Linked DNA regions of Homo sapiens. The protein of the gene in region 2 purifies or fractionates together with the protein of the main gene of each other region. This does not show direct contact. Each region holds a gene or a part of one and is shown on either strand. Other genes may lie near its edges.

Region 1 (3,818 bases), on a different chromosome or scaffold from region 2:
GTTTTCCTACCTTCTTTCTCCCCCTTCCTATTACATGCTGGTGTTCACAAGCTCTCTTCTGATTCTACACAACTCTCACTAGGAACCTCATCTATACCTGGTATTTCAACTACCACTAACGTTGATGACTCTTCTCTCTCTCCAACTTCAAGAATTGTTTTCCTAGTTTTCTTTGACTAACTTCCTCCGGGCCAAGTTGAATACTGCTCTGTACACCCTACAACTACACTTACAAGATTCTAAAGAGACATTCCTCAATTTTTGTGTATTCTTTCTAGTTCTAGGCCAGGTATTCTTCCTACATGCCCCAAAACACATTCTTATCTATCCTTATAGCATTTAACATGCTTTATTACAAATTACTAATTACTTTGTCCATTTCTCCCATCAGAGAATAAGGTGCTTGAGACTTAGCACTATGTCTTATTCACAATCTCCCCAGTGCCTAGCATAGCATGAGACACATAATAGGCACTCAAATATTGATTAAACCCATATATAAGAGAAATAAAATTTGCTTTAAATTGGAAGCATACCATTTCTGAAGGAAACTTTCAGAGATTTATGTTTTCAAATGAGAAAATAGGCCATGAAAGGTGAAGTGACTCACCCAGTCAAGCCTTGGTCTCCTGAATCACAATTCTCTTCCCACAAAATTACAGTGCCTAGGCCGGGCGCAGTGGCTCACACCTGTAATCCCAGCACTTTGGGAGGCCAAGGCAGGTGGGTCATAAGGTCAGGAGATCAAGACCATCCTGGCTAACATAGTGAAATTCCGTCTCTCTTAAAAATCAAAAAATTAGCTGGGCATGGTTGCATGTGCCTGTAGTCCCAGCTACTTGGGAGGCTAAGGCAGGAGAATCGCTTGAACCCAGGAGGCAGAGGTTGCAGTGAGCTGAGATCACACCACTGCACTCTAGCCTGCTGACAGAGTAAGACTATGTCTCAAAAAAAAAAAAAAAAATTAGAGTACCTATTAAATTGTGCTTAGTGATCTCAGCTTTCTATGAAGCTCTAGAAGTAATACAAAAATGTTATAAAGAACCATTTCAACTTCATCCACTCCAGCTCTGGCTGGCTATATCAGTTGTAGAGAAGTCTGTTATTACATAATACTTTTTCTGCCCAGAATAATCTTTAATTGAACCAGTATTTTCACGTGTCCTTCACACAAAAAATAATTCAATACATACTTATTGAGACATGAAGCCAGCTGGGATTCTGGGTCCGGTGTGGACTTGGAGAACTTTTCTGTCTAGCTAAAGGATTGCAAATGCACCAATCAGCGCTCTGTGTCTAACTAAAGGTTTGTAAACGCACCAATCAGCACTCTGTAAAAACGGACCAATCAGCACTCTGTAAAATGGACCAATCAGCTCTCTGTAAAATGGACCAATTAGCAGGATGTGGGTGGGGCCAAATAAGGGAAGAAGAGCTAGGCACCTGAGCCAGCAGCAGCAACCCACACGGGTCCCCTTCCATGCCGTGGAAGCTCTGTTCTTTTGCTCTTCGCAATAAATCTTGCTGCTGCTCACTCTTTGGGTCCACACTGCCTTTATGAGCTGTAACACTCACCACGAAGGTCCGCAGCTTCACTCCTGAAGCCAGCGAGACCACGAACCCACCGGGAGGAATGAACAATGCCGGACGCGCCACCTTTAAGAGCTGTAACACTCACTGCGAAAGTCTGCAGCTTCACTCCTGAAGCCAGCAATACCACGAACCCACCGGGAGGAATGAACAACTCCGGACGCGCCACCTTTAAGAGCTGTAGCACTCACTGCAAAAGTCTGCAGCCTCACTCCTGAAGTCAGCAAGACCATGAACCCACCAGAAGGAAGAAACTCCGGACACATCTGAACATCTGAAGGAACAAACTCCGGACACACCATCTTTAAGAACTGCAACATTCACCACGAGGGTCCGCAGCTTCATTCTTGAAGTCAGCGAGACCAAGAACCCACCAGAATGAACCAATTCCGGACACATTATCATGCATCTCTATGTGGAAAACAATGTGAAAGAAGTTATAATTCATCAGTACTCTAAAAAATATCCTTAAGAGCATATATTGCATGCCCCTTAAGTTTAACAATATCTGAAATAGCTGCCTTAAAACAAAATGCAATCACACTTGAGAGAGGCTGAATATGAACATCAGAGATAGGCAATGCAACTTCATCAGGAAAATCCCTATAGTCCAATGCTACTGTTTTCAAGGGTTGCTATATTATACTGCAATTGTGTTACTGGGCAACAACTCAGAAGCTAGAATGGCAAATTCACTCAAGAAGTAACTGAATCAAACGAATATTTATGAAAGCATTCTGAGACTCAACTTCACTTTCTATATCTTCAACTGAAGTAACTCTTTGTTATAAGCATTAGATACAGGATTTTTGGTGAGACTGTAAAAACTACATGGACATTTTATAGACATATTTTGAGACAGAAGATAGGTGCTTTCCAAAAGGGAATGGCCAGGTTTAGGTTCCTACTAACTCTGAATTTTAATCCAAAAGCAATCTGAAGTCACAATATACAGAAGGCAAATAACTGGGCATTTCCTTAATTTCTTCCATCCTGGATTATAGCTCAGTTAAAAGAAATAGTAGGCCGGGCGCATTGGCTCACACCTACAATCCCAGCACTTTGGGAGGCCAAGGTGGGTGAATCACTTGAGGCCAGGAGTTCCGAGACCAGCCTGGCCAATGTGGTGAAACCCTGTCTCTATTCAAAATACAAAAAAAAAGCCAGGTGTGGTGGCATGCACCTGTTAGCCCCAGCCACTTGGGAGGCTGAGGCAGGAGAATCACGTGAACCCACGAGTTCAAGGTTGCAGTGAACAAAGATTGCACCACTACGCTCCAGCCTGGGCGACAGAGCAAAACTCCATCTCAAAAAAAAAAAAAAGAAAAAAGAAATAGTACTAGACTTGACAGTCAGTGATCTCTCCATGACCTAGAGAGGGCAGTCCTGATGAAAAAAATATAATTAATAAACTGATATTCTACTAGGAACCAGGAAATTGACCAAACTCCCCAAGCCCACTGAAGAATAGTGCCAGCATTCCTGAGAGTCCTTACTGCTGGTATTGCCATGGGAAATTCTCAAATACTCACTTTCTAGGAACAGAATCTTTATTTCTGATTCCGTGAATTCCCACTCTTCAATCTTTTTTATAGTTTACTGTTGCCATTTCCCCTTCACTTACTCTCTTCTCTCAACAACCTTACTTTCATGATACTTACAAAAGTGGGGGAAAGTAGAAATGCCTATCTGTCATTGTATTAGTCCATTTTCATATTGCTATAAAGAACTGCCTGAGATTGGGTAATTTATAAAGGAAAGAGGTTTAATTGATTCACAGTTCCACATGGCTGGAGAGGCGTCAGAAAACTTACAATCATGGCAGAAGGTGAAGGGGAAGCAAGGCACCTTCTTCACAAGGTAGCAGGAAGGAGAATGAATGCAGGAGGAACTACCAAACACTTATAAAACCACCAGATCTCATGAGAACTCACTGTCACGAGGAACAGTATGGGGGAAACCGCCGCCATGATCCAATTCCCTCCACCTGGTCTCTTCCCTGACACATGGGGATTATGGGGATTATAATTCAAGGTGAGATTTGGGTGGGGACACAAAGCCTAATCATATCAGTCATCTTTAAGAAACATTTATTCAGCAACTTGTATTTGGAAAAGACTAAGGATACAGCTCATCGAGATCTGAAGTCCTGCCCTTAATAAGCTTACAATCTAGTTAGGAAGTCAAGAAAGCTAAAATAATACAATAAAAAGTATAAGTATCAAATA
Region 2 (4,356 bases):
AAAAAACTTATTAAATCTCAAATTCCCAAGATGTTCCCCCATATAAGGTGGGAGCTCATATCATCACATGTAACATTACAAAACCTGTACTATAAAATTAGATGAATAAATAATAAACCTATACTATTACCAAATTCATAATAAAAAGATCAACTTACCAAATTAAAATCAGCCTATTTATTCCCTTTGTATAAATAACCTAAAGTTCCCCAGGTTTTTATTTCCCAGTTTCCTACAAATGAATTGATCAGAATGCCTCTTTATAGATCAGCTTTCCCATAGTTTCTCTCTCATTTGGCAATAACTTCCCATATTTACTTCATTTCCAGAATAATCTCCCCCTCTTGCAACCCACACAAATGTAAGAGAATGAAGGCATAATTTCTATAATTCATAATTATTTCCCCATTATTGAATTTCATTTTTGAATTATTATAAATCATCCTGAAATCTAATAATATAAATCTTTCTCATCCTATCAGTCTATTAAAATATACAAAACATCATTTAAGATGGTTAACACAAGAAAAGATAACTATGGCAGCCTTCATAAATCAAGCAAAAGATTTCAGAAAAGTGCTTCAGTCTGTTCAGTTATCTCTAACTTTCACTAGAAAATTAAGGGAATGCCACTGTTACAGAAGGTATAATTGCAGATTCTAAAAAGTGAATACATGTGTACATGTAATTTATATCTATTCAGTATCATCTTCTGATTATCTGTACAAATAAAAGGACAAAAGACACAGATGATGAAAACACATAATCCTCAAACCACTTCAGATACATTTTGTGCCTGTATTTCACAGGACCAAGTCTGAGAATTCAGAACACAAAGAAAATTAAGCCATATTGCAAAGAGTTTGTCACAAACACAATGAGCAGAACAATAAAATTGAAATGACATTATTGACTTGACTTTGTCATCTTCTGTTTATTTCTGATGGTGGCTCGAAGTTTACGTATTACCAGTCTATCAGGTAGAATCATATCACCTTGTTGTTCTAGATAATCCAATAAATTTTCAGTCCACTGGAGGGCAGCTGCATGATTAATATGTTTCTCTGGAATTAGTTCTATTTCCTCCTCCTCATTTTCACTGGATTCATCTGCCTGGCCTTGTGCTCTTCTGATGATTTCGCTATCAGTTAACACTTCATAGCCTGGTTCAGTACTGTCTACTTCAAGCCATTTTTCAAGGTTCTCAGTAGTCACATTTTCCAATCCTTTGGTGTGTTGTAAAATGGCAGCCACAGTAGCCACAGAAATATCTTCAACATCAAAGTCCAGGCTCTCTTTCTCCTCTACCATAGGGAGAATCTTCTTCCATGCTCTGCTAATGGTAACTGGTTTTACTAAGTTCCATGCCATTGCTATTTCATAAAGTGCATCCAACAGAGTTAGCTTCTTCCAGAATGATTTCAGGTCATTACCTTCTTCCAAGTTGTTCTGGAGAAGACCTGCACGATAATTTCTCTTCATCGTTGCTATGACTCCCTGATCTGAAGGCTGAATCAATGAGGCCACATTAGGTGGTAAATATTTAGCAAATATTTGGCCATCATCTGACCTTAGGACATTTTCATTTGGATGTGTTGGTGAATTATCCAACAAGAGCACAGCCTTTTCCTGCAAGCCTTTAGATCTTAAATACTCTCGAACTTGCGGCACAAAAATTTTATCAAACCATTGTCGGAAAATGGAAAGATCCATCCATGCACCTTTTTGGCTGAAATAAGAGACTGGCAGGTTTAAGGTGTCAGTTGATTTAAAGGAGCGAGGTTTCTTTGCTTTCCCCACAACACAAAGTTTAAGTTTGTGTAAACCTGTTGCATTGGCACAACACATGATTGTGACTCTTTCTTCAATTGATTTGTGCCCAGGGACAGTGCATTTACCTTTGATTACTGAAATCCTAGAAGGCAAGCACTTCCAAAAGAGTCCAGTTTCATCTGCATTGTAGATTTGTTCAGGCTGTAAATTCTCTCGTTCAATAAAATCTCGAAAGTTATTACAAAAATCTTCCACCGCAGTCTCATCTCCATTTAATCTTTCATTTCTAATGTTAATCTCTCTAATGCTGTGCCGCTGCTTAAAACGAGTTAGCCAACCGGCAGAGGGGTTAAAATCACCATCCATTCCCAAAGCATAAAAGAAGAACTCTGCCCTTTTTGCACAAATTGGTCCAGATATGGGATTCCCTTTTGCTCTTTGCTGGTTGAACCATTCCAGCATTGCCCTGTCCAATTCCTCATACATGGATGGCTTCATAGATTTCCTCTTGGCCAAAAGACTTGTGGAATCAGAACTGCTTGCATAAGTTATAATCTTTTCCTTATTTTTTCTTATATCCCGAACTGTTGTTTCACCAATTCCATAAATCACTGCCAGTTGTTTGGAAGAACCTCCGTCTTCAAGTTTCTTTATTATATCAAGCTTATCTTTAATAGTCAACACCACACGCTTCCGTTTCCCTGACATAGCGAGGTTCTGGGACTCACCCCACACTCACAATGTAGCAATCCACAAAATCCTTCCTTCTCTTACACAGGCTCACTTCAACAGTCTTAACACACTCAGTCTTTCATCCTTACCAGCAACCTGGTGGCCCTGATCCCCTCCCGGGCTGGGGTTGGCTGGCAAATAGACTGCAGAAGAAGGTGAAAGAGGAGGAAGTTTGAGAGAACAGGCCTTTCTTTAACTTATACGGGCAGTAGCGGAGGCCCCATGTCACCGCGGATAATCCGGATTAAAAGCATGTGTTTTATTACCCCAGCAGCCGTGAGAAAGACTATACCCCCATTGTGGCCACGAACCTCCTGCACGTCCAGATCCCGGGTAACCGCGCGTCACTAACCCCTGCCACACCCCAAAGTTACGACAGAGAGCCGAAGAGCCTAGGAGTCAAGGACTGGCACCCTTCCTCAGGGGAACGGATATATTAGATTCCTTCCCCAGCAGCAGGGCCCTCCCGCCGCGCAGCCCCAGTTTCCCGCGCCAGCTTTAGCCGGGACAGTCCTCCCAGTCCCTCAAAACCCGCCAGGCCCCTCTCCCCACCTCTCTTGCAACCAGGACCCGCACAGCTCCCTGACTATCGCGCGGCAGTCGCTCCGCCCCTAGCCACGCTCCCGGAAGATGATCCCTCCCGCCGCCTGGCCCCACCCCTCGCCCCACCCAGAGGCGGGACTTCCCTTGGTCCCCGGAAGGGGGGGAGGAGCATCGCTTGTCCTGAGCTGGTTGCCGGGGCAGGGGCGGAGGCGGAGGCAGAGGTGGAGGCGCTTTGAAAGGTGAGAGCGCGAGGGCGGTGCGGGGCTGTCTCCCGGCTGGGACTCGCTCGCGCTCCCGGTGCTAATGGTTTATGAGAGGGGCGGGGGAAGCCGTGCCTCCTCGCGGACTAAGAGAAAAATTCCCGCGGGCGCTCTTTGGGTGGGCCGGAGAACGCCCCTCAGCCCTTTGCGCCTCTAACCCTCCTCAGCTGAGCTGCAGTGGGCGCGGTGCCCGTTATTTCCGCCTTGGGGAGGTGCTTGGAACTGATGTAGGGAGCTCGGTTGGTGATTTCTCGGGTTTCTGGCCTTTCCAGACCCTTGTAATTGTTTTCTCGGTGCAGAGCTCTTTTGGGGTCTGGGGGTTTCCGTCGTCCTGCGCGCGTCATCGCGAAGCTTGGCCTGAGGGTCCGGTTTCCTAGCTACTGTGCCCCTCCCTCCTGGAGGCAGAGTGACGGACTAGTGGGCTAGCGGGCGCTGGGTTCCTGCGTCCCGCCAAAGAGGTTTGTAATCATGAAAGTCACCCTTCCGGGTGTTAATTCCTGAGAGGATCTATTCCACTGTCTACCACTCATTCCTGCTGCATTAACCTTCATTGTTAACGGATTTTAATGAATAATATAGTTATCCCGGATACCATGCTGGCAGGATCCACTTTGCGAAATTGTGGACTGTTGGACTGTGATTCTAAGTGGGGGAAATAGGCTTTCCTCTCTTTATGTTTATTTTCTTATATCCTATTTCTGTCATGTTCTGTCTTGTTTTCCTGCCAATAGAAGAACTATGATAAATTTATTCATAGCAGTGTGATAAGAACTTGATCTTAATCATACACTGTAGCCCTCAAATCGTGTATTATGCTGGCTTGTTTTTGGTGTCCCTAGTAATTTCATCAGATTGTGAGCTCCTTGGGAGCAGAGACCATGTTTATTTGAAATGGTGGCAGCACAGTTCCTAGCAGGTGCTTGCATTTTGGTAGATATTCAATAATTATTTTTCGGCTTATTAATCTTTGCTCTCCAAACTGCCATATAAAAGAAAACATCGAAGAGGAGTGATGTTTTACACCCAAGAATGGATCCCTCCTGGTAGA

The links.
Region 1: the proteins of JRKL (region 2) and CEP83 purify together in Homo sapiens (affinity purification with mass spectrometry; one large-scale study listed by BioGRID and IntAct). This does not show direct contact.

Annotation. Positions count from the first base shown.
Region 1 is NC_000012.12:94,453,149-94,456,966, forward strand, and holds part of CEP83 (centrosomal protein of 83 kDa), read right to left. Parts: intron 1-3,818. UniProt on the Homo sapiens protein: Component of the distal appendage region of the centriole involved in the initiation of primary cilium assembly.
Region 2 is NC_000011.10:96,388,775-96,393,130, reverse strand, and holds the start of JRKL (jerky protein homolog-like), read right to left. Parts: upstream 3,119-4,356; 5' UTR 3,058-3,118; exon of another isoform or gene 2,649-3,057; 5' UTR 2,482-2,648; coding exon 907-2,481; 3' UTR 1-906.